Homo sapiens: one gene and its partner. The protein of the gene in region 2 interacts with the protein of the main gene of each other region in a pairwise test. Each region holds a gene or a part of one and is shown on either strand. Other genes may lie near its edges.

The links.
Region 1: the proteins of ZNF547 (region 2) and GPATCH2L interact in binary tests that used the Homo sapiens proteins (3 or more experiments, as listed by UniProt).

Annotation. Positions count from the first base shown.
Region 1 is NC_000014.9:76,172,601-76,184,445, reverse strand, and holds part of GPATCH2L (G patch domain-containing protein 2-like), read right to left. Parts: exon of another isoform or gene 10,901-11,845; coding exon 10,821-10,900; exon of another isoform or gene 8,926-10,820; intron 7,824-8,925; coding exon 7,756-7,823; intron 6,555-7,755; coding exon of another isoform or gene 6,459-6,554; coding exon 6,404-6,458; coding exon of another isoform or gene 6,302-6,403; exon of another isoform or gene 4,424-6,301; intron 3,683-4,423; coding exon 3,597-3,682; intron 1-3,596.
Region 2 is NC_000019.10:57,355,197-57,367,864, reverse strand, and holds the start of ZNF547 (zinc finger protein 547), read right to left. Parts: upstream 4,315-12,668; 5' UTR 4,162-4,314; intron 3,051-4,161; exon of another isoform or gene 3,032-3,050; coding exon of another isoform or gene 2,609-3,031; exon of another isoform or gene 2,460-2,608; intron 1-2,459. Other genes in the region: TRAPPC2B (trafficking protein particle complex subunit 2B), read right to left, coding at 2,609-3,031; ZNF304 (zinc finger protein 304), read right to left, coding at 10,016-11,835, 12,454-12,594. UniProt on the Homo sapiens protein: May be involved in transcriptional regulation.

The DNA of each region.
Region 1 (11,845 bases), on a different chromosome or scaffold from region 2:
GTTGAAAAGCCCTTGCTCTTGCTTAGGAGAATGGAATTGGCAGTGTCCAGGCAAGAAGCAGCCTCAGCTCAGTAACCTGACAGGAGGGAACCTTCATAGTTCAGGCATGATTATCAAACTCTTTGTGCTCTTAAAGGAGAGTAATTATAGGCATGTGAAAAAAGGGAAGCACTCCCTGAGGAACTCTTCCTCACATGCTTCCCAAGAGGCAGTAGGGCCATTAAAAATTCCATGATGAAGAGGAAAAACAGCCTGGGAACAGCCAGGAGGCAATACAGCAAATTAATACACCAGCCCTCCTCGGGGAAAGCTGTGATAAAACAGGAAACACTTCTCTCTTTGCAAAATAAAATTATACCACTAATGATAACATTGTCGCCACACACACACACACACACACACACACACACACACACACACACCATGCTAATGATGCATGTGAAATTTCCAATGCTGCCCAGGTGCTTTGAAAGAAATGTTTCCCTACTACAAATAAAATGGGACAAGAAAAAGACACAATTTCCACTGGAAACAGTTTTTAGTATAGTCATTCACCTGCCTCTTCCCTGCCACTACTCCTTCACACTCCTCCTTGGTGCCAGGCTTTTGCTAAATGATCCACTCTTTGCAAAGCCTACTGCCCAGTTCTGAATCCAATCTCATCAGTCTGCCACACTGGAGCTAGACGGTTCCATCTTCACTAACCCCTTGCTGGGGAGGAACGATTACAAAGGAGTGACCAGTTGCCCTGAGAGCTCAGTATGTCATCATTCACATTTTCTAAAAATTGCATAGAAGTCACTTGCGCTGATCATTTCCCATGAAGCAGTGGTTGCCAAGCTTTATTGAGGTGCACCCTCATGAGTAAAAAATCTGAAAAAAAATTATGTATGTAGTACATATACATAAAATATAAATACGTGCTACTAGACACATATGTATAATTTAAAACAAAAAAAATTTTGCTATAATTTTTTTGCTATAAATAAATGTAAGTTTAAAAATTTTCTTTCCCTTTCCCAAAGAACCTTCATGTATGCAACCCACTTGGTATCTACTGCCCTGGGTATGACGTCTAGAAGTAAGGACAAAGACGATGCATGATTGTCCACATTCTCTTTCCTTTGCTTTCAGCAATGGTCTAAAACAATAAGCAATATTACCCTAGAGCTGAGCATACCAGAAGCATAGTAGAGACTTCCTCAGGTTTCCAAGTTCAGCCACAAACACTGCCAGGCAAAAGAGTGAAGACAGTGGTATGGATAATGAGATACACAAAGAAACAAGAAGCTGATGCCTAGTCCAGCCACAGGATAAGGCTTTTAAAGGAAACAGGAAACCTGACAAAAGTACGAATACTGATCTCAGCACAGCACAGCTCTAGGTAGCAGAGGTAAAGAGAGGAGGGAAAGTAATCCACTTTCAGCATTCTGACATGATATCATGCTACTCAAATCATTTTCCCAAACAGTATACACAGACATTATTTTATTTGGTATTAAGACAAAAAGCTAAAGGACTGTTTTCCTATGGATTAAAATCCTGTTGTCTTCTATGACAGCTTGAGCACAACCACCTCTAAAAAGATCTCCCTGAGCCTTGACATTAGGGGCCCCTCCTCTGTGCTTTTTCAAACCTTTATTGTAGTTGTCAACTTCCATACCTGACTTTCCCATGAGAATGTAAGCTCCTTGAGGGCAGTATCTAAACAAAGAGCTGGCTCATAGTAGGGTTCCAGCAAACGCTGAATGAATTAATGATGAATAAACATCATGCTACTGAAGGAAAGGCCTTACTACTAATAGTTTATATCATTCCACAATTTTCCACATTCTTTTCTTTTTTTTTTTTTTTTTTTTTGAGACAGGGTCTCACTCTGTCATCCAGGCTAGAGTGCAGTGGCATCATCACAGCTCACTACAACCTTGACCTCCTGAGCTCAAGTGATCCTCCCACCTCAGCCTCCCAAGTAGCTGAGACTACAGGTGTACATCACCAGACACAAATGATTTAAAAAAAAAAAATTTTGTAGAAACAAGGTCTCACTCTGGTTCAACATTCTTTTTTTTTTTTTTTTTTTTTCTTTTCTGAGACGGGGTCTCGCTCTGTCCCCCAGGCTGGAGTGCAGTGGCGCGATCTCAGCTCACTGCAAGCTCCGCCTCCCGGGTTCACGCCATTCTCCTGCCTCAGGCTCCTGAGCAGCTGGGACTACAGGCACCCGCCAGCACACCTGGCTAATTTTTTGTATTTTTAGTAGAGACAGGTTTTCACCGTGTTAGCCAGGATGGTCTCGATCTCCTGACCTCATGATCCGCCCACCTCGGCCTCCCAAAGTGCTGGGATTACAGGCGTGAGCCACCGCGCCCGGCAGTTCAACATTCTTAATAACACCATTTGTGATGGTCTCTCTTTTCAAAAGACATTCCATACAGAAATACCACTTCTTCAGTAGAAAGACCTGGCAGTAGGTTATGGTGCAAAATTTATTATTATAGCCCATAGTAGAAGTTCTAACTGTATCCATGAAAGTAACTTCTTTGTGCAGCCTGAACCTCAAAAGCTATGAACATAACCATTTAAGAACTTATTAGGAATAAAAAAGAGTCATCAGAACCTTGGAAAGAAATTCTTTGTGCCACCAGAAACAGTACAACTTCTAGGGTCCAGCCTATTAGCTACTCTTTTCTGCATAACAGCCCTGTAGGGGGTGCTACAATTAAAACCATATTTACTTCCCATGTCACCTAAAAGAATTTATATTTGTAAGGAGTCACTCGTTTGACTAATATATGTTAATGCCTAACAAGTCCCAGATACTGTGTTAGGTGTTATGAAGTTATCAGGGAACAAGACAACATCCCAGTACTTTGAAGCTTATATTCTAGTGGGAGAGACTGAGGGATAAAGTGAAAAAGAAAAAAATTAAAAAAGAAAAACCAAACCAACTAAAATAAACTAATAAGCAAATCCAATTCAGACTGTGATAGAGCCATAAAGGAAACAAACAGATAACGAGCAGGAAGTGCTGGAGGTGGCCCCTTAGACGGGATGGTCTGAGTGGTCCTCCTTGACGAGGTGGCACCTGAGCTGAGACAAGCAGCAGCTCAAAGACAGTTTTCCAGTCAAAGGGAAGAAGTGCAAAGTTTCAGCGGCAGGAAAGGACTGCTGCAATTTTTGAAGAACAAAACAGAACTCCCTAGTACTGCTGGATCTCTCTCCCACAGAGGGAGAAAATTATACGAAAGGAGGCTGTACATGTAGGGAGAAGTCAGATTATGCAGGGTATTGCAGGCTCATGGCAAGGAACATTAATAATGTTGTTTGAAGATGGGGCTTTTAGCAGCAGAAATAAAATGAAATATGAGCCAGAAGACTTAGGTCAAAGTTGAGACTTAATCACATACTAGCCTTGGACCACAGGAAAGATACTTCACTGCTCTGCCTCAGTTTCTACATCTGTAAAACATCTATTTACCTCAAAAGATTGTCAGGATCAAATTGGATACTGTACACAAGCATACTCTATAATTTGAGGGGTAATAGAAAGGAATATAGTATTGTCCAGAAGCAAATAACCGCTACTAAAAGACAATTACCTGGCAGAGCAGTGTGCTGGTGAACACCTTCGGTGAGAAGCATCGGCAAGAACATCCAGGGAGTAAAGGGGAGACAGGGGATTGAACTGCAGGAATGAATAAGACTATTTTAGTAAGGCTTACATGAAACGGACCTGATCCTAAAGGGTAACCTACATTTGATTACTTTTCCCCTTTGACTATCCAACTCTTGTTATACCAAACACAGGCACTGTTCAGTAAAGTCACACATATTTCATAGTTTGCCTATGAATGTACCAAACCTGATCTAGCACACCTCGGAAAAAAAAAGCTATTCCTTATTAAACAACAATTTTTCAAAAACTTCTGACATACAATAGTCACTTAAATGGCAGAAGACAGTTTTTTCCACATGATATAACAGGAACTTGTGCCTGCTGATTATCAACTATGTATCAGCCCTTGTTCCCAAGAAGATTAGCATGAAATTACCTTTTCATTTCCTTATCCTGGCAAATGTTTCCAAGAATAACCGGTTGACACATAACAGCAGCATAGTATTGTGGAAAGAGAACTAGACTAAGAATCAGAACACCTTTTAGTTCCAATCTACCACTGAGATACTGGGTGTTAAAAATTACATAACCTCTGAGCTTTACTATCCTTATCTGTTAAATGAATATATCACTATCTGTCTTACCTAATCACTCCATCACCTAGGCTGGAGTGCAGTGGTGTGATCTCAGCTCACTGCAACCTCCACCTCCCGAGTTCAAAAAATTCTCCTGCCTCAGCCTCCCAAGTAGCTGGGATTACAGGCGCCTACCACCACACCCAGCTAATTTTTTTTTTTTTTTTGTATTTTTAGTAGAGACAGGGTTTCGCCATGTTGGCCAGGCTGGTCTCGAACCCCTGACCTCAGGTGATCCACCTGCCTCAGCCTCCCAAAGTGCTGGGATTACAAGCATGAGCCACTGTGCCAGGCCTGCCCTACCTATTTTACAGGGTTATTATGAGGGCTAAATGAAATATTGCTTTCAGAGTATAATTTCAGTTTCTCATCTGCAAAACATCTATTTGACTTCAAAAGGTGGCTGTGAGGATCAAAGGAGATCCCTCACTTTATGTTTGCTAGCTTTCTTTGGACTTTTCCCACAACATAACAGTCCTCTCTAAAAAGTTTAGAACTTAATACCCTCTGACATACAAAGACTGGAAGAACCCGGAATGATAACTTCAAACTTGTTTTATGAGAATACAAACTAAGCAACTGTTCTATCTGCCACAGAGGTTCCAATCTTGGTTCTATTAGCTGTATCACTTTGGGCAAATAGTTTGAATCTTACAGATCTCCAGTTCGTCATTTGCAAATAACGGATCTGGATCAGGTGACTGCCACAGGTCCCCTTCTGCCTTTGGATCCTCTGATGCAAACATGATTAGTGCTCTAGCTTAGTGTTCCCCAAACTGCAGTCTCTCACATACCACCTTCATGACTTTCCTTATCTGCCTACAACCTGTACTACTGTTTACTTATTATTTTTCCTCATATCAATTATTTTTGCTCAGCTTTGTCCTTACTATATTTCCGTGAAATAACAGGCTTGATACCATAATTACATCTTTTCCAATGTACACTATAATACATAACTTAAAAATTGGGCATCTATATGCCATCTAAAATCATCTCATACATATACACCAGTTATGTCTTCTACCACTCTAGTTCATTTTGAAACAGCAAATTCATAATGAAGATTCCAAGTCTAAAATGTGGATCGTGTATATCAACTCAGTAAGCTACTAAGTTGTTAAAAAAAAAAAACAAAAAAACCCACAACAAACAGGAAGCCTACAACTTTTCACCTGTCAGTGTTCATCTATTTTACAACTAATCACCAAGATAATGCAATCCTCCAAAAAAATCACAAAGCTTCACACATAAAGAAACATATCGATAACCACTGTGAGTTAATTTTTAAATTGTGAGCCCTCCACATGGGCCTAAATATGCCAAGGGGCCCCTCAGGGGGTAGCCAGGGAAAAGACTAAGAAGGAGAGGCTCTAAGGCAGGGGTCCCCAACCCCGGGGCCGCACAGCAGGAGGTGAGCTGTCAGCAAGCAGCTGCTCCCCATCGTGGGCATTACCGCCTGAGCTCTACCTCCTGTCAGATCAACAGCCACATTAGATTCTTATAGGAGTGCAAACCCTACTGTGAACCGAGCATGAGAGGGACCTAGGTTGTGCACACCTTATGAAAGCCTAATGCCTGATGATCTGTCATTGTTTCCCATCACCCCCAGGTGGGACTGTGTAGTTGCAGGAGCACAAGCTACATTATGACCAGTTGTATAATTATTTCATTATATATTACAATGTAATAACAACAGAAATAAAGTACACAATAAATGTAATGCATTTGAATCATCCCAAAACCACCCCCCTCACCACGCCCCCAACCCGGGTCCATGGAAAAACTGTCTTCTACAAAAATGGTTCCTGGTGACATAAGGTTGGGGACCACTGCTCTAAGGCTTTGACCCCACTTCACCCAAAGCAGCTCTACCTTCTGCTCCATACGTTTAGGCTTCAACATAGTACTTCTCAACGCAGGATTCTGATGTTGAACTAAACCATATGCAAATCAGATTCATTCTGCTTTCTTACTGCAAAGTTCAAAACTAAAATAAAAACAGGATTCCTATGAAATATATGCTACAAGAAACTAATGATCACAGTTGAACCTACAAAGAGGAATTAGCTGCAGTTTTTACCAGTAAGTGTTGGATACTCTTAGAAAACGGTTCTCCAAGAAAATCAAAATAACAAGAAAGAGGAAACCTTACCTCATGTGCACAAGCAGAAATGTGAGGAAAATCAGAAGCCAACGCTTTATTCTTTCTAAAGAAAAGGAAACCAAATGATAAAATAAAGATGACAAAGAAAAATGATCTTACCTGATTTCGTTCTCTTTTCCCAGCTGATGGTAACCAGAAACTAAAGAGAGGGAGAGAATAACAGGAAAGAAAACAATAAAAGAAGTGATAGGAAAATTACAGAAGGGAGAAGAAGATAAGATGTTGGAATAATTAAGTAAAGACAAAGAAGGGAATAGAGAAAAGATGTAATCAGAGGAGGAGAAAGAGATTAAATGTATGTGAATGTTTTGCAAAAACAAAAACAAAAAAAAACCTCTTCAAAGGAAAAAGGCTTGTAATGGAATGTAAAAGACTGAACAACAGAAATAAACCCAAGATTACACTGTGACACCAATGATCTCTCAGCTGTGCAGTGACAAGAGTCTCAACTCATGAAGGGCATAAACCACACCCACATCTTTATTTTCTATGTAAAATTAGCCCGAGTTGGATGTGTATAGGATCATAACTGGGTACTGACCATGATGCATACAAGATATATGAAAGAACCAACCATTTTAGGGGACAAGGCTGTCACAAGAATTGGCAGAATTATTTTCCTGTAGCTACATACAGGCTTCCTACAGCACTCACCACAGTAATTAGAACAAAAAGATATTTCACAGGTTGGGCGCAGCGGCTCACACCTGTAATCCCAACACTTTAGGAGGCCAAGGTGTGCAAATCGCTTGAGCCCAGGAGTTCAAGACCAGCCTGAACAACATGGCTAAACTCTGTCTCTACAAAAAATACAAAAATTAGACAGGCGCAGCAGCATGCGCCTGTAGTCCCAACTACTCAAGAGGCCAAAGTGGGAGGATTGCTTGAGCCTAGGAGGCAGAGGTTGCAGTGAGCCATGACTCTGCCACTGCACTCCAGCCTGGGCGTCAGAGCCAGACCCTGTCTCAAAAAAACAGATATTTCCCTATGAAAAGGTCTAAAAATGGGAAGAGAATATAGGAGGATAGAGGCAATCATCCATTTTGGAAAAAAAAAAATTTAGGGACAGAAAAATTAGTTTAAAATAAACATCTTTACTGGAGGCTACTAATGCAGCATCTGTAGGTATAAAAAAACAATACAGTGAAACTAGTCTAGAAAGGAAAAGAAAATCACTGCCACAGGTTTAGGATGTTGCCATATTTAACTGTTACAACGTACAAATCTTTAAGATCTCTTTGAACTCTGAAGCCTGATTTCTAAGTTGCTCCATAAAACTCCCCTCTGCCTCCTCCTCCAAGGAGCAGACTAGCACAGCCAGTAAATACATAAGCACTTACTCTTTCTGCCGAGGGTCACTAATGATATGGCTTATCCTCTCAGTCCCCAAAGTGTTTATGCTGGTCTCCTAAAAAGAAAAGGCAGACAAGAGTATCATCCAACCACAGAAACAAACATATAAAGTACAATATCAATCTTTCCCATAACTGTGCCAGCTAAGGCAACCTCAAAAGGCACATGTTAAAAGTCAATCTTAAAATAAAACAGCAACTATACTTCTTTTTATTGGAATCCATCTTAAAAGTATTACATGTTACCCTACATTTATTATTCTCCAGTGATCCAAAAGTCTTTATAAATACATCATAGACACTGTTCACCATATATGGTATTTTAATAAGTACTATACCTCCTGTAACTACTGAAGTATATAGGAGTAAAAATCCTTTTTTAGAAAATTCAACAGTAGCCAATTTTTAACAGGCCAACACACCAAGCTTCCTAGAGAGCTACGTGATTTGATTATAGTTCCAACAGCCTTCATCCTGGGACATTACCAAATCCTCACTGGTAAAATGTAAATATCTGCTGACTAAATATAAATACATCAAGAGAATTTTGTGACTTGCAAAAATTGTTACTCTGTACTTTGTCCCTCAAACATCATCTCATGAAATAAAAATAGAAATTTGTATAAAATTGATTCCTAAATTCAGGGTTCTCAAGATTATAGTGTAAAAGCTTACCCATAACACCACAAAGAGTTCAGAAACGAACCATTTCCAAAAAATTGGAAAACGGCAATTCACTCTTCATTTAACTTGAGTACATTCACAATGCTTACCTACCATGGCACCTGGGAAAGCATACCAACACACATCTGAGTAACTGTTGTGTTGAGAGAACACAAGTCACGGGCGTGAATGCCAAGAACATCAAGGCTGTTCTTCAAACACATTTGTGTCTATATTCATCTATGTGTGTGGACCGTGCTAAACATCAGGCTACACATTTCAGCAGAACTGGCTGTAGAAAAATTACTCTGAGGTCAGAGTCCGGGCGGTAGTGGAGTTAAATGAGAAGTTTTCATATACTATATTCTTCATGTTCTGCATTTCTTATAGCTATGCCTCCTGGTCACAGACAGACATGGTAGGGGGGCCAAGGGAAAAGATGGGTGAAAAATGAGCTATTTGTTACAGCAGAAAAATTATTAACTTAAAGTGCCGTAATGTTTAAATTTACAGTTTATTACTGTGTAAATTACAAGCAGTACTTTGTGTAATTAGCAGCTCACTGGCAGGGAGCTGTGAATGAAACTCATTATTTATGATTACAATTTAGAAAAGCAGAAGAGAGATGGGGGAGGGGGAAGAAGGGGGGCAGAGCGGTGACCTCTTCTAGAAATGATAAATATCCCTTTAAGGTGATGAAGATGAATTAAACAAGTAAATATTATCCTATTCATTTGAAATCATTAAAGGCACATCCAACAGGCCCTCACTCCCTTCCAGGCAAGCTAAAGGGAAACCTTCAAGATAAAGTGACTTGTTTCCATGGAAGTGGATGGCTCTTATTTTATAAGAGCTGAAAGAAAGTAACACAGGTGGCAGGGGGAACATTATCTGTCAAGCCTAAACAATAAAAGTAAAACCTCTCCTTCTTCCACCCCATGTACTGCTATTCTGCTAGCTATCCCTGTTAACAATAAGCTCCCAAAACAGAAAAAGCAGCGTTTTGTCTGTAAAATGAGTAATTTGAAAGGTATCAGTTTTCCAATAATCAAATGTCTTCTAATTCAAGATTTGAACTTGAGGCCGGGCACGGTGGCTCATGCCTGTAATCCCAGAACTTTGGGAGGCCGAGGCGGGTGGATCACCTGAGGTCAGGGGTTTGAGACCAGCCTAGCCAACATGGTAAAACCCCATCTGTACTAAAAATACAAAAAAATTAGCCAGGCATGGTGGGGCGCCTGTAATCCCAGCTACTTGGGAGGCTGAGGCAGGAGAATTGCTTGAACCTGGAAGGCAGGAAGTTACAGTGAGCCGAGATCGCACCATTGCATTCCAGCCTAGGTCACAGAGCGAGATTCCATCTCAAAAAAAAAAAAAAGATTTGAACTTGAATTTAAAGATAAAAAGAAATAAGAATCTTGGGCTCGTCTGGAAATAAACAGTCTCATTTCTTTTGCATGCTTAAAACTTCAGAAAACTGTTCCCTGGTCAGACTATAAAACAGTATCCCCTTAAGGGAAGCCAGACTGTGGCACATATTGTGCCACCTAGCAGGCATTCTAAATGCTTACCAAGTGAACAAACAAATTAATGCTCTCAATGCCTCTCCCTTCCTTATTCTTTGCCCACCACCATCTTCTCTGACTGAGGATGAGCCCTGTCTTAATTTATTCCTCAATCTCAAAGTAGAGTAAAAAATAAAATTCAATAAAAATGTAAAAAGATAAAAGTAGACCTGGGTTCAAATCTCTATTCTACCATTCCTATCTGGGTAACATCAGACATTCCTTAACTTCTTCGAACCTAAGTTTTCCTCATCTGCTGAAGGTGCTTGCCCTTGTAGGTTGCTGGAAGGATTAAATGAGCTGAGTCCCTAGTACCATCCCTGGCAAAGGCAGAACTGAATAAACAGCAGATAGTTCTCCCTCATGGCCAAGGAGGGGCTCTTGAAACTCAGTAACAGTTTTGTTTTTTTTTTTTAATGAATTCTAGGATGAAAGACCAAAATTAGGAAAGAACAAAGATGCATTCATGAATTCAAGAGGAGTCATAAAGAAGCCAAGAGTATTTTAACTTACACAATAATAACATAACATTAATCAAAAGTTACAGAAGACACAGCTCAGGCTTGTAGGTTTACAGGCAATAGACACTGTAATGACAGTGTTTTTTTTTTTTGTCAGTACTTCTATATGAATTACGTTTCATCTTTTATTTGTATATCCATTCACATTCTACATAATGTTCACTCTTGTAAACTCCCAACACATTCCAGTTGGCTCCATTAACTTCAGGGAGTTCTGTAGCACCTCTGATTGTTAATAGGATACACAACTCCCATAGGGAATATTATCTCCCCACTGAGCCAAGCTAACTGTGAGAGGTATCACCTTCCCAACCAGCCTTCTTCGCCCCTTTCTGAGGCATCGAGCTGCAGCTCCAGGTAGACGATTCAAGCGAGTATGGTACCCTAAAAAAAGAAGGAAGGCCTCAGATACCGAATGCAGAAAATCCATATGCAATCCTATGTTTCTAGTACACTGAAGGCTTTACCCCCAGGATCTTAATAGATTGACCTTTAAACTAGCATCACAGAGCTATTTGCCAAGGATTTATTATTCCCAGGTCTTTGTCACTAGCAGTATGATCACAGGCATGCCATTTACCTTTGACCTAGGCATCCTCCATCTATAAAAGAGGGATAATCACTCAGTCCTACCTTACTGGGCTGTTTTGAAGACCCAATGAAATAGCAAGCAGAAGGGACTTTATAAACTGAAAACACCACACAAACATAAGGTACTATTAATAATTTTTAATTTAAAATTAAATGTTAGTTTGTACGTCAAAAACATTCTAATTCATGACATAATGGGGAAAATAGCACGTGTCGGATAACCCAATTTTTCTCACTGCTGCATGTGTTCTACACAAGGAAAGAACAACTGGAGGAAACCACACCAAAATGTTATTAATGAGATTGTCTCTGGATATGAGATTATAGGCCATTTTAAGTTTCTTCTCACTATTCTTGCTTGTTTGTATATATTTTAAGTGGTCCATTAGAAACTTTTAGAAATGTTCATCAAAATGTTCAATAAAGCAATGTGTGCCTCAGCTAGTCTTTACCAAGCACCAACTGCTGGTTCGCCATGACAAAAATTCACCATGACAAACAAAAATTCACCATGACAAAATCCTACATAATACAAGTTTACATCTCGTAGTGTGATTCTGATCACCCACAGATGTTCAACAAACTCTTGGCAACTGATTAACTGGTTGATTATGGGTTACTGGGAACCCTAGAATCATAAATTTATAGTGCTAAAAGAAATGGTTTTGTCCAATGTCACATATCGTAAGTGATGACCCTGTCATCCCAGGAAAATGCAGTGACTATCACAGAGCTTGG
Region 2 (12,668 bases):
GGGCAGTAGATCATCCAATCTTGCCTTGATATGTGGAGAAGGGGAAAAAGCAGTGCCCTAGTTTAGAACCCAGCTGCTCCACTAGCCTGGATAACTTTTTTCTTTTCCCACAAAGAGTGGCCCTGAGGGTCAGCCAAGCCTGTAGGTGCAGAATATAAACCATCTCAAACCTTAGTCTCCATCCCAAGCCCATTCCTTATCCCACCCACGCCTCCCTTTTTCTAGGCAGAGGACAAAATCCTTCCTATGGCAGGTCTGCGCCTTTCTAAAGTAAGCATCTGGCTTATGGCTCCACCTATGGTGTGAACCCCAAGTATCAGCTCTCTCCTCCCTCACCACATAGCTTGCAGGCAATGACCTTTAGACTTCCCTACCAAATTGGATCCTCAGGACCCGGTCCAATCTACACCCTCTATTCTTTTTTTTTTTTTTTTTTTTCTTGAACAAACCATTTAAGAAATCAAATAGGGTAAAAATGAAGGTAGCAATTTTACACAAGGATATAAGACAAAGCTTAGAATTACTTGCTGAAAAGTTATTCAGAATGGAACAAAATTGTTCAAGTGCTCCCAGTTAGCACAGGTTGTGTTACTTGCTTTTCAATGGACATTTACTATTTTACAGTAAGATCTACTTATCATAGGAACAAACAGACAATTCCCAGCCCCCTCTGGTGTATTGCCTAAAAGGCTGAGTACAAATGTTAATGTAATCCAAGCTTTTCTTTGACAACAACCCTAAAAATTGCCTTACAACTTTTCACAAGTACAGGCATCAACAGTTGATTGTCTGAGGGAAAGGAAATATAAGAATATAAAGTGACAGAAGCAACACACTTCACTGTGGCCTGGAACTGCTCCCAGCCTCCTATTTTACAAACATGATTCAGGTTCTCACATTATAGCAAGATCACTATTCCTAGCCTCTGGCAGAAGCAGACATGTGACACTTAGCACTGCACAAGTGTTTCTTTGGCTTCTTGAGTAGTGCTATGTATACTGCCAATACATTTTTATAACATCTCTAAATGCATAACGTCCACGTATGTGCTATGACATTTCACTTCCAATGGCAGAATATTTTAGTTTTAAATCTATCTACCAAATCTTGACTATGACATTTGTTTCTGGATTGTTATAAGATCAACCTATCTGGGCCGGGTATGGTGGCTCACACCTGTAATCCCAGCACTTTGGGAGGCTGAGGCAGGAGAATCGCTTGAAGTCAGGAGGCAGAGGTTGCAGTGAGCCAAGCGCCACTGCACTCCAGCCTGGACGACAGAGCAAAACTCCACGTCAAAAAAAAAAAAAAAAAAAACAATTTATCTGAATTGGGCAAGTCGAAAGCTTATTCCCAGCCAGGCGCAGTGGCTCACACCTGTAATCCCAGCACTCCGGGAGGCCGAGGCAGGCAGATAACCTGAGGTCAGGAGTTCAAGACCAGCCTGGCCAAAATGGCGAAACCCTGTCTCTACTAAAAATACAAAAATTAGCCAGGCGTATGCCTGTAATCCCAGCTACTCTGGAGGCGGAAGGAGAACTGCTTGAACCCGGGAGGCAGAGGCTGCAGTGAGCCAAGATCGTGCCACTGCACTCCAGCCTGCATGACAGGAGCAAGACTCCATCTCAAAAACAAAAAAACAAAAACATACACACACACACAAAAAAGCTTATTCCCAATTTTTAAGTAAAAAATATTTCATGGCCAGGCGCAGTGGCTCACACCTGTAATCCCAGCACTTTGGGAGGCCGAGGCGAGCGGATCACGAGGTCAGGAGTTCAAGACCAGCCTGACCAATATGGTGAAATCCCGTCTTTACTAAAAATACAAAAATTAGCCAGGCGTGGTGGTGCATGCCTGTAATCCTAGCTACTTGGGAGGCTGAAGAAGGAGAATTGCTTGAACCCGGGAGGTGGAGGTTGCAGTGAGCCAAGATCGTGCCACTGCACTCCAGCCCCTGCACAACAGGAGCCAGACTCCATCTCAAAAGAAAAAAAAAAAAGAAAGAAAGAAAGAAAAAGAAAGCTTATTCCCAATTTTTAAGTAAAAATATTTCATGGCCGGGAGTGGTGGCTCATGCCTGTAATCCCAGCACTTTGGGAGGCCGAGGCAGGCAGATCACGAGGTCAGGAGTTCAAGACCAGCCTGACCAACATGGCGAAACTCCGTCTCTACTAAAAATACAAAAAAAATTAGGCAGGCATGGTGGTGGGAGCCTGTAATCCCAGCTACTCGGGAGGCTGAGGCAGAATTGCTTGAACCTGGGAGGCGGAGGGTGCAGTGAGACGAGACTGTGCCACTGCACTCCAGCCTGGGCAACAAGAGCAAAACTCCGTCTCAAAAAAAAAAAAAAAAGAAAGAAATTAATTATTATTGATAATGAGTTCTTTATAAATAACATTGTTCACAAGGAAATACTAATTGATCTACTGATATGTGACATGAGACAGAATGTACTATTTTTAAATATAAAAGAAATTTCATTAAGTTTAGATAAGCTGAGAATACACAAAAGATTTCCAGGCTATTTAATCAAGTAATTTACAATGTACACATTCCTGAGTATACACCATTGTGGTGATATAATTTATTTTGGAATTTTCTCCATTCAGCTTAAAAGGTGTTTCTTCCCAAGAAACTGAACTTTTCTGTCAAATGCACTTGATCGAATAGGAGAATTGGGTTCATAAAATGGATTCATTGAAAATTTTATATATAAATCATAAACATCAGTAAAGAAGTTCTTTATTCCATCTTCTTGTCTTATGTCATGAAGCATAATAAACCTCATATGCCCCGCGGTGACAAATGCTGACACAAACCACTCGTTGAACTTGTCCACAGTTTTCAAGTACATGTTGTTCGACAGCCACATGTTCTCATCTACGAGGTCGAGAGCAGCATGAGCTATGAACTGGTTCAGATGACGATGGTCGTCTTTGGATTCTGCCTTCCCAGCTGGCAAAAACTCCATTTCAAAAACTGGATTATCATGGTGACCAACAATTACAAAGTAGAAGCTTCCAGACATGGTCTTCAATATATGGCTCCTGCAGCGGGAGGCCGACAACGGAAACGCAATGTCAGTTTCCGCGGAAGAGACCCGCGCTCCGCACCTTTTTTTGACACGGAATCTCGCTCTGTCGCCCAGGCTGGAGTGCAATGGCGCGATCTTGGCTCACTGCAATCTCCACCTCCTGGGTTCAGGCAATTCTCCTGCCTCAGCCTCCCGAATAGCTGGGATTACAGGCGCGCGTCACCACCCCCGGCTAATTTTTGTATTTTTACTAAAGACGGGGTTTCACCATGTTGGTCAGGCTGGTCTTGAACGCCTGACCTTGTGATCCGCTCGCCTTGGCCTCCCAAAGTGCTGGGATTACCGGCGTGAGCCACCACGCCCGGCCACCCTCTATTCTTTTGAAGAATCTACACCAGTTCTCCTCTGTAGACTCCACACCTTTCTGTCCCCCTACCCATGTGACATTTTCAACTTGAGACGCCTGAGAATCACACTGGCCAAACTCCAACCCATGATCTTCTCCATGAAACCTACTTCTCATGCTGCTGACTTCCCCAACTTCATTCTTTCAGATGTTCGGGCAAAAAAAAAAAAATGACCCTTCACTCCCTATTTTTGCTCACAGACATATCTGATACGGCAGGAAAACCTGTTGGCTCTATCTTCCAGGTCTATCCAGAATCCCATCACATTGTCCCTCTTATACCACGGCTCTGGTGCAGCCTCTGGGATCCACTGCAGTGGCCTCTTCTGGGTCTCTCTGTGTCAATTCCCCATCCTGCTCGTTCTAACTCTGGACCTGCCCCTCCCACTGGTCTTCCCTTGACAACCTTCCATGGTTATACCGGCTGCTCAGGCTGCCATTCCAAGAGAAAATTCACAAAACCCTCTCTTTCCCGCAGAAACAACCCACACTCCGGGCTCCCCGACGCGGCCCACTTGGCAGCACCTCCATGCTCTGAACCTGAGATCCCCGAAGGGAGCTCTGAGGCTGCATCAAACCAGCTGATACGGGGACCCCACACAGGAACGCCCCTCTCTTCGAGACAAGGGGCCTGACCTGCAGGGCCCCTTCTATGGGCTTCAGCACTGGAAGGAGGGGTCGGGCGGAGGTGGGGGGGGGCCTGGGACGGGGCACCCACCTCGGGTTCTTCGGCGGGGACTCCGCAAGTCCAGCCAGGGAAGAGAGGGGCGGGGGCGACAAAGGCAAGACAAGGACACCGCCGTCCCCAGTCCTTGTCAGCTGAGCTTCTGCCACTGTCAGTTGTGCCTGTGTCACTACCGCCTCTGCGTACAAGGAACCAAGCCGCTTCTCGCGCTTTTCCGCTCCGTCACTTCGGTGACGTCATAGAGCGCCAAAGGCCGGAACTAGTGAAAACACCAGAGAAAATCAAATCAACCACGGCAAGAGGACGCCGGAAGTCCCGCCCTCCTACGATGCGCGAGCACGAGGACGGACGCACGCACGCACGCACGCACGCAAAGGTTCCTTCCTGCACATTCATTGGGTCAGTCGCGCTGCCGAGAACCGCAGTGTCTTCTGGGTTATGAAGTTTCGACACCGCTTCTGGACTTGCCTTAGAGCGTTGGTCAGTCCTTATATGGCGGATAGAGGCTCAGTGGCACCGTCAGGGGAGCTGGTAAACAGAGTGCCGGACTCCACGGACAGGACGGGGCTTGGGTTGCTCTTAAAGGCGACATAACCAGATTTTCTTGAAGTAAGGTCTAGGATACTCACAGAAATGTGAGGGACCTATGATATCGGATTGTGAAGCACAGCAAGTTCTCAACGGCTACACCGCCAAAGGGACACACTATACCACAAAGGCACTCTGTCTCTACTCATGCCTCTCAGCCATATGTTGCTTTTCAAATACACATACAGTTAAACTTTGACTTCTATTTATTAAGCTTCAATATGGTTGGTCCAAGAGAACAAAGAAAGACTACATGGCTGGGAATTTGCACAAAAGAAGACAGGAGATACCGACGTAGATTGAAAGGGTGACGCTGTGCCTCTGGATCCAGAAGAAAACATCATTACTGTCTGTAGAGTCAGTGATTGTGTTCCTACCAAGAGTGCAATGCTTTTATTCTAATAATACTTATTACTTCATGTCTGAAATATTTTACATTTATTTTAAAAGTCTCAATCCTGTCTGAAAATGAGAGTGACTGATACATGCCATTTCCTGACAGGACATTTTGTGCCATTCCATAGTTGGAGTATATGTACACAGGGAACGTATTATCCCCAATAAAAACTGTGAACTTTCATGATCTTATCTCCTTCCTGAGAAGTGAGTTATCATTTTACAGGGAGTTGAAATTATCTGTGAAAATACTTGTGAAATGAAAATTACAGAAATCTATTAATAATAACTGTTAGGTTTTGAAGGGAAGGCGAGGGTTAAAGAAAGGCAGAGTTGGCAGCTCTACAGCAATGCAGGTTTTATGTCCAGCACGAGACCTGTGATGGGGAGAACTAGCTTAGTGCCAGAACCCCTCACTGCTTACAGGCTGGGGCAATTATAGGCCTGGATGAGAGGGGTCAGGGGTGGGGGGCAGGGGGCGCGGCGGGAGGGTATGACTTGCTGCCCAGGAGGATGGTGGGTTTTTTTTTGTTTTTGGAGGAGTCTCGCTCTTGTCGCCCAGCCTTGAGTGCAATGGCGTGATCTCGGCCCACTGCAACCTCCGCCTCCCGGAGTTCAAGCGATTCTTGAACTCCGCCTCCCGAGTAGTTGGCTTTACAGGCGCGTGCCACCACGCCCGGCTAATTTTTTTGTATTTTTAGTAGGGACAGGGTTTCACCATGTTGGTCAGGCCAGTCTGGAATTCCTGACCTCAGGTGATCCGCCCGCCTCGGCCTCCCAAATTGCTGGGATTACAGGCGTGAGCCACAGCACCCGGCCAAAGGATGTGCGTAAGATGTTCCTGAGGCAGTTTGGCCTTTTATCCGGCAGGATGTGATAGTGACCTTCCTTGGATCTTTTCCCAGAACGATGTGATAAGAAAGTCAGGCAGTTGGGCAGGATGTTTCTCAAGGCCCTCACTCCGTGGAATGCTTCACTCTGACCAAGGTCTGTGAGATGGCAGGGGGCTTACAGGATGGTGCAGTTTGGACTAACAGTGATTATGTTATTTCAAAACTAGTGGCAGAAATAGTCCTACAGAAATCTCTCTGTGACATGTGAAGGGGGGAAAAAGCAAGGTTACAGTAGAGTTTGAGCAAGAGTCTGAGAAGTCAAAGAATGAAGTTGAGACTGGCTGTGCTGGAACCTGGACACATTATGCTTCTGTCTCCTATATGTATTTCTTATTTCATACTTGAAAACATCGCTTATTAACTGTTTGGAGGGATAGAGATAACAAATGGAAACACTTGTCAAAAAATAAAAATGAAGGCCGGGTGCGGTGGCTCACGCCTGCAATCCCAGCAATTTGGGAGGCCGAGGTGGGCGGATCACGAGGTCAGGAGCTCAAGACCAGCCTGGCCAACATAGTGAAACCCTGTCTCTACTAAAAATACAAAAATTATCTGGGCATGGTGGCGGGTGCCTGTAATCCAAGCTACTTGGGAGGCTGAGGCAGGAGAATCGCTTGAACCCAGGAGGTGGAAGTTGCAGTGAGCAGAGATCGCGCCACTGCACTCCAGCCTGGGTGACAGTGCAAGACTCCGTCTCGAAAAATAAAAATAAAAATGAGTAGGCAATCTGTGTGATGATGTGTATTTACTGCTCTACAAAATGTTCAATGAGCACGTACAAACTGGGTTTCAGGTCAATGGTAGGTATATGGGACACACCGGGAATAGGGCTGCCAGCTGCTGTGTGTATACAGGACTGTTATGTGTTTCCTTAGATTCTGTATTTGTCTTTTTGGTATTCATAAATCACAGGTTCAAGCTAACAGCCAAAGTTGTTAACTTCTCTGTCTGCAAGCCACTTACTCAGAGGTGTGTGAAACTCACATAAAAAAACCCCAGCCAGGCTGGGCGCAGTGACTCACACCTGTAATCCCAGCACCTTGGGAGGCCGAGGCAGACAGATCACCTGAGGTCAGGAGTTCGAGACCAGCCTGGCCAACATGGCGAAACCCCATTTCTGCTAAAAATACAAAAATTAGCTGGGCATGGTGGCGGGTGCCTGTAGTCCCAGCTGCTTGGAAGGCTAAGGTGGGAGAATCGCTTGAACCCGGGAGGTGGAGGTTGCAGTGAGCCGAAATCATGCCACTGTACTCCAGCCTGGGCAACAGAGCAAGACTCCATTTCAAAACAAAACAAAACAACCCTGCCTTTAAAAAAGATACTTATTGTGTGTTATTAGGGAATTGCAAATAAAAGCAACAATGGCATACCACTACACACCTATTTGAATGGCATTTTAAAATCCAAAATACTGAAAATGCCAAATGCTGATTAGGATGAGATGCAAGAGGAATGTTCAATCATTGTTAGTTGGATGCAAAAATGGTACAGCCACAGCCCGTTGCAGTGGCTCACCCCCGTTATCCCAGCACTTTGGGAGGCCGAGGAGGGTGATCACTTGAGGTCAGGAGTTTGAGACCAGCCTGGCCAACATGGTAAAAACCCATGTCTACTAAAATAGGTGGAGGTTGCAGTGAACCAAGATCATACCACTGCACTCCAGCCTGGGTGACAGAGTGGAGACTCTGTCTCAAAAAATATATATAAATAAAATAAATGGTGCAGCCGCTTTGGAAGACAGCTTGGCAGTTTCTTACAAGACTAAACATGCTATATGACAGAGAAAATTGCACTCCTTGGCACATATCCAAATGAGTTGAAAACATCTCCACAGAAAAACTATACAAATATGTAGTAGGTTTATTCATAACTGCCAAAACTTGAAAGCAACCGTCCTTCAATAAGTAAATGGATAAAGAAACTGAGGTGTATTTATAGAATGGAATATCATTCAGCCATAATTTGCACACAAATCTTCAGAGGTTTATTTGTAATAGCCAAAAACTGAAAGTTACCCAAACATCCATAACAATTAAGTTGACAAAGAAGAAAAATTGTGGTATACAATGAAATACTGAAATACTACGCAGCAATACAAATGAGCAAACAATTGATTCATGCAACAAGATAATGGATTAACCTTAAAATAGTTATGTTTACTGAAAAAGCCAGAGCCCCACCCCCTAAAAAGTACACACCATATGGTTTCATTTATAAAATTATAGAAAATGCTTGCTGTTGCTTGTGAATTGTGGAAAACAAGATAAGGAAAAATTGAGGATTATAAAGGGACAATCTTTTGTTGTGTTGGATATCTTGACTGTGGTGGTTTCATAGGTGTACACACATGCTGAAACAGCACATTTTACACTTTACATATTTGCAGTTTATTGCATGTTAATCATACCTCCATAAAGCTATTAAATAAATGTTCCTCATTAAAATCTATATATACTGTTCCACTAGGAAAGTTAGATCTGTCAACTATTTTGGCTTTACCATATTCCTCTCCCTACAATTTAGGAGAGTGAGCCCTGCCTCAATGTTGGTAAAAATTGGTAAGCAATGATGTCCACATCCACCTCAGTCACTCGGAATGCTGGCTGGGTCAGAGAAGACCCATCCCTGGATCTCTCTTCTGTCACTGCTGAGGTTCCTGTCTGTGCAGGTCAACTGCCCAGGGAGACACAGGAATCCACAAACATTTAGATTATTTCCTCTGACAGTGGCCTTGGCCACAGGAGATACAGATGTCTGAAGGTCCTGAGAATTTCTATGCACTCCCATCCCACACCATCATAACTGCACCGAGACTTGTGGATGCCCCTCTAGAATGTTCGAATCTCCTTTTGTTTGCCACAGTCATCCCCACTCCATTATCTCAGTGCTTCTGTAGCAATCATGATTTTCACATTGCCCTACAGAGGTCTTACAGTCAATGTTACTTGCCTATGGGGTTCTGGATATCAGGGACTTGATCCTGTACAGGTACAGAAGACAGCAATCCCTCAACAGTGCTGGGGAGTACGTGACAGTTAAGGGACCCAACTTATGTTGCTTCCACAAGCACAGGAGATTTTCGCACCAACTATGCCCTCCTCACTGGGCTCACAGGAAATCCTGGCAGCCAGGCCACAAAGTTAGGCACAAAAATTTTTTCAGTCTTTCCTAGCAAGCCTAGGGCAATAGTGTAAATTAGGTCAAACTAGACTGAGAACAGTTTTCTGCCATCCTTTGGTCCCCTCTGAGGCACATAAAGGTGGTGCCCACAAAAGGTGCTACTCCCTTCATGACAGAACCCAATTCTTTTCTCAATCCACTCTACACAGTAACAAAATCCCCAAGAGTAAAGACTGCCACAATAGGCCCTTATCACTGTATAAATCAGAGCAGCATGGGACAAGCAGTTCCAAATTTGGGCGATTTGGCAGTAAGACAAGTAAGTCACAGCTATCACGTTTACAGTTAACATTGTCCATGAAGATGGAAAATCGTGTCAGGAAATCCCAGCAGACCCTAGCTCAGGTCCTTTTGGTGAGAGCTAGATCATGTTTGCTCAGAACCTAATCATGAGGGAAAAGATGAGGACCCTCAATGGTAGGGGGTGAAGTGGGGGGGGGGGGAAGTCCTTGAAAATATTCATGATTACCTGTAGGGAACAGGAAAGAAAGCACAGAAGTCTGCCTTCCCTGAGCAAAATGGAGTGATTGACACACACAGCTGGTAGCAATAAGATGGCTTCCGCCACAGGCACTGGCAGTGATATAATTCCATCAAGAGCTCTAGACAGTTACAAAGTGCAACACACCTCATGAAAGCCTCCCACATATGTGGTGCTTATCAGGAATCTCCCCAGGGTGGAATGAATATACGGTGCTCATCTGCTAGCTGATGGTTCCCTCACAAAGGGTACTCACAGAGCATTGCTCTGGTGTGAGTCCTATGAGGATGAACAAGATGACATATTTTCTGCATTCATAAGGCCTTTCTCTTGTGTGAATTTTCTGGTGTTAAACAAGTTTAAGAGATGCAGCTAAAGGGCCACCAAAACTGTTGCACTCGTGAGCTCTTTCTCCAGTGTGAGCTTTCTGGTGACGAACAAGATGGGAGCTTCTGCTATAGGCTTTCCCACATTCGCTGCATACGTAAGGCTTTTCTCCAGTGTGAACCCTCTGGTGCAGAATGAGGCCAGAGTTGCGGCTAAAGAATTTCCCACATTCACTGCACTCATAAGGTCTTGCTCCAGTGTGAACTTTCTTGTGTTGAACAAGGTGGGAGCTACTAATGTAAGCCTTCCCACATTCACTGCACACATAAGGCCTTGCTCCTGTGTGAACTCTCTGGTGCAAAATGAGGCTGGAGTTGTGGCTAAAGCATTTCCCACATTCATTGCACTCATAAGGCTTTGCTCCAGTGTGAATTCTCTGGTGTACAATAAGGTTGGAGCTATGGCTGAAGAATTTACCACATTCACCACACTCATAAGGCCTTTCTCCAGTGTGGATTTTTTGGTGTTGCACAAGTGTGTCTTTACGGCTGAAGGCCTTCCCACATTCACTGCACTCATAAGGCCTTGCTCCAGTGTGAATTATCTGGTGCTGAACAAGTGTGTCTTTGCAGCCAAAGGCCTTCCCACATTTGCTGCACACGTAGGATCTTGCTCCTGTGTGGACTCTCCGATGTTTAATGAGGCTAGAGTTATGGCTAAAGAATTTTCCACATTCTATGCATTCATAGGGCCTTGCCCCGGTATGAATTCTCCAGTGCTCAATAAGGTGGGAGCTTTGGCTAAAGAATTTTCCACATTCACTGCACTCATAAGGCCTTTCTCCAGTATGAAATCTCTGGTGCTGAACAAGTGTGTCTTTACGGCTAAAGGCTTTCCCACATTTGTTGCACTTATAAGGCCTTTCTCCTGTGTGAATTCTCTGGTGCTGAACAAGGTGGGAGCTTCTGCTGTAGGCTTTTCCACATTCACTGCAGTCATAAGATCTTTCTCCAGTGTGAACTCTCTGATGCTGAACAAGTGTGTCCTTGCGGCTGAAGGCCTTCCCACATTCACTGCATGTATAGTGTCTTTTTCCAGTGTGAAATTTCTGGTGCATTTTTAGGTGGTGCAAGTGAATGAAGGCTTTTCCACACTCCTTACACACATGAGATATTTCTCCACTGTGGATTTTTCTGTGATTAATAAGAGCTGATTTCTCCTTGAACACATTTCCACATGGTAGGCATCTGAAGGGTCTCACCTCAGCATGAGTCATCTGGCTGTCAAGAAGAGTAAAGGTGTCCAGGAAGGCTTTCCCTTCATCACCGCAACTGAAAAGCATCTGTCCATCATAGTCTCCTTGGTGTTGCCTGAGACTGGAGCTGTGTGGGAAAGACTCCATGCATTCAGTCCTTCTGCATGGACTCACCCTATTGTAAGTGGTCTGGTGCTGGAAAAGGCCAGAGCTATCTGGTAAGTCCATCCCTTCCTCCCTGCACGTAAAGGATCTCCCTAACATGTGGACTGTACAGCTCTTCACAAATGAGGCCCCTCCATCATCCCCTCTGAAGCAATTCTCTCCATTATGTTGCTTCTGGTGCTGGTAAAAGTTTGCACTGAACGAGAATCTTCTCCTACACAGCCCACGTGTGCACAGTTTCTGTGTAAGGTGTGATCCCTGGTGTTCAGCCAGGTGCAAAATGTCTTTCAAGAGTGGGTCACACATCTCACATGGGTGTGCTTTCTGGAAAAGACCTGACTCAGCAGTCCTGACCTGTGACACTCCTTCTACAGAAACGCTCTGCTCAGAAGGTGCCTCATGTTCTGCTTCACACCAAAAACCTGAAAGCAAAAAAGAGCTGGTGAAGTGCATGCTGACTTTGGTGGGAGGCAGCAGCCCCATCACAAATGTGTGTCTAACACCAGTGCGAGTCCACTGGCTTGTTGGCAGGACAAGAGGGCCAGGATCAGTGTAAAGAAGGGCTGGTTGTCAGTATAGGGCCTCACAGAATGGAGGAACCCTGACTATGAGGTAAAGACCTAAAAACAATGGCATAGAGTATAGGGAGTATAGGTGAAGCCTCTACCTGATTCCTCTGCAAGAGAGTTTCAGCAGGGCCTTGGCCGCTGGTGTCAGGTGAGCTCTGTGCAGATGGGTATGTCCATGCCCACGAAAATCTGACTCCAAATAAGTAGCTCATTCTCACGGACTATTTAATGTGCAGAACTCATGACACATTAAAGTAAGCTAGTGTTGAAGAGAGCAATTGAAACACGGAGGCCAGAAAAGTGGGAAAACACCCAAAGGATGGAAGACACGTGAGAAATGACAAATGGAAAAAGTGCCAAGAATGAGGAAAGTAAAGTAGATGTGAAGAATCACTATGGGCCTTGGCAACAAAACACTGACAAACACAAAACAAGTTGAAGGTTCGATTTGAACCCAACCATAACAGATACCCTCTTCCAGCTCCCATTCAGCAGGGCCATGCCCTCTGTAGGTCTCCTTTACTGTGGCTGCAGTGATGTCTGCCCTGTCAGGCACCCAAGGTTTTCTGCCCCCTCCAACTGCGCAACTGCATGGGACTGGGAAAATGAAAGCTGTAACGCAAACAAAGGGCAGGTGAGTGGCGCAGGTAGACCCACTCCACAGAGAAAATAGAATGTTTAGAAAA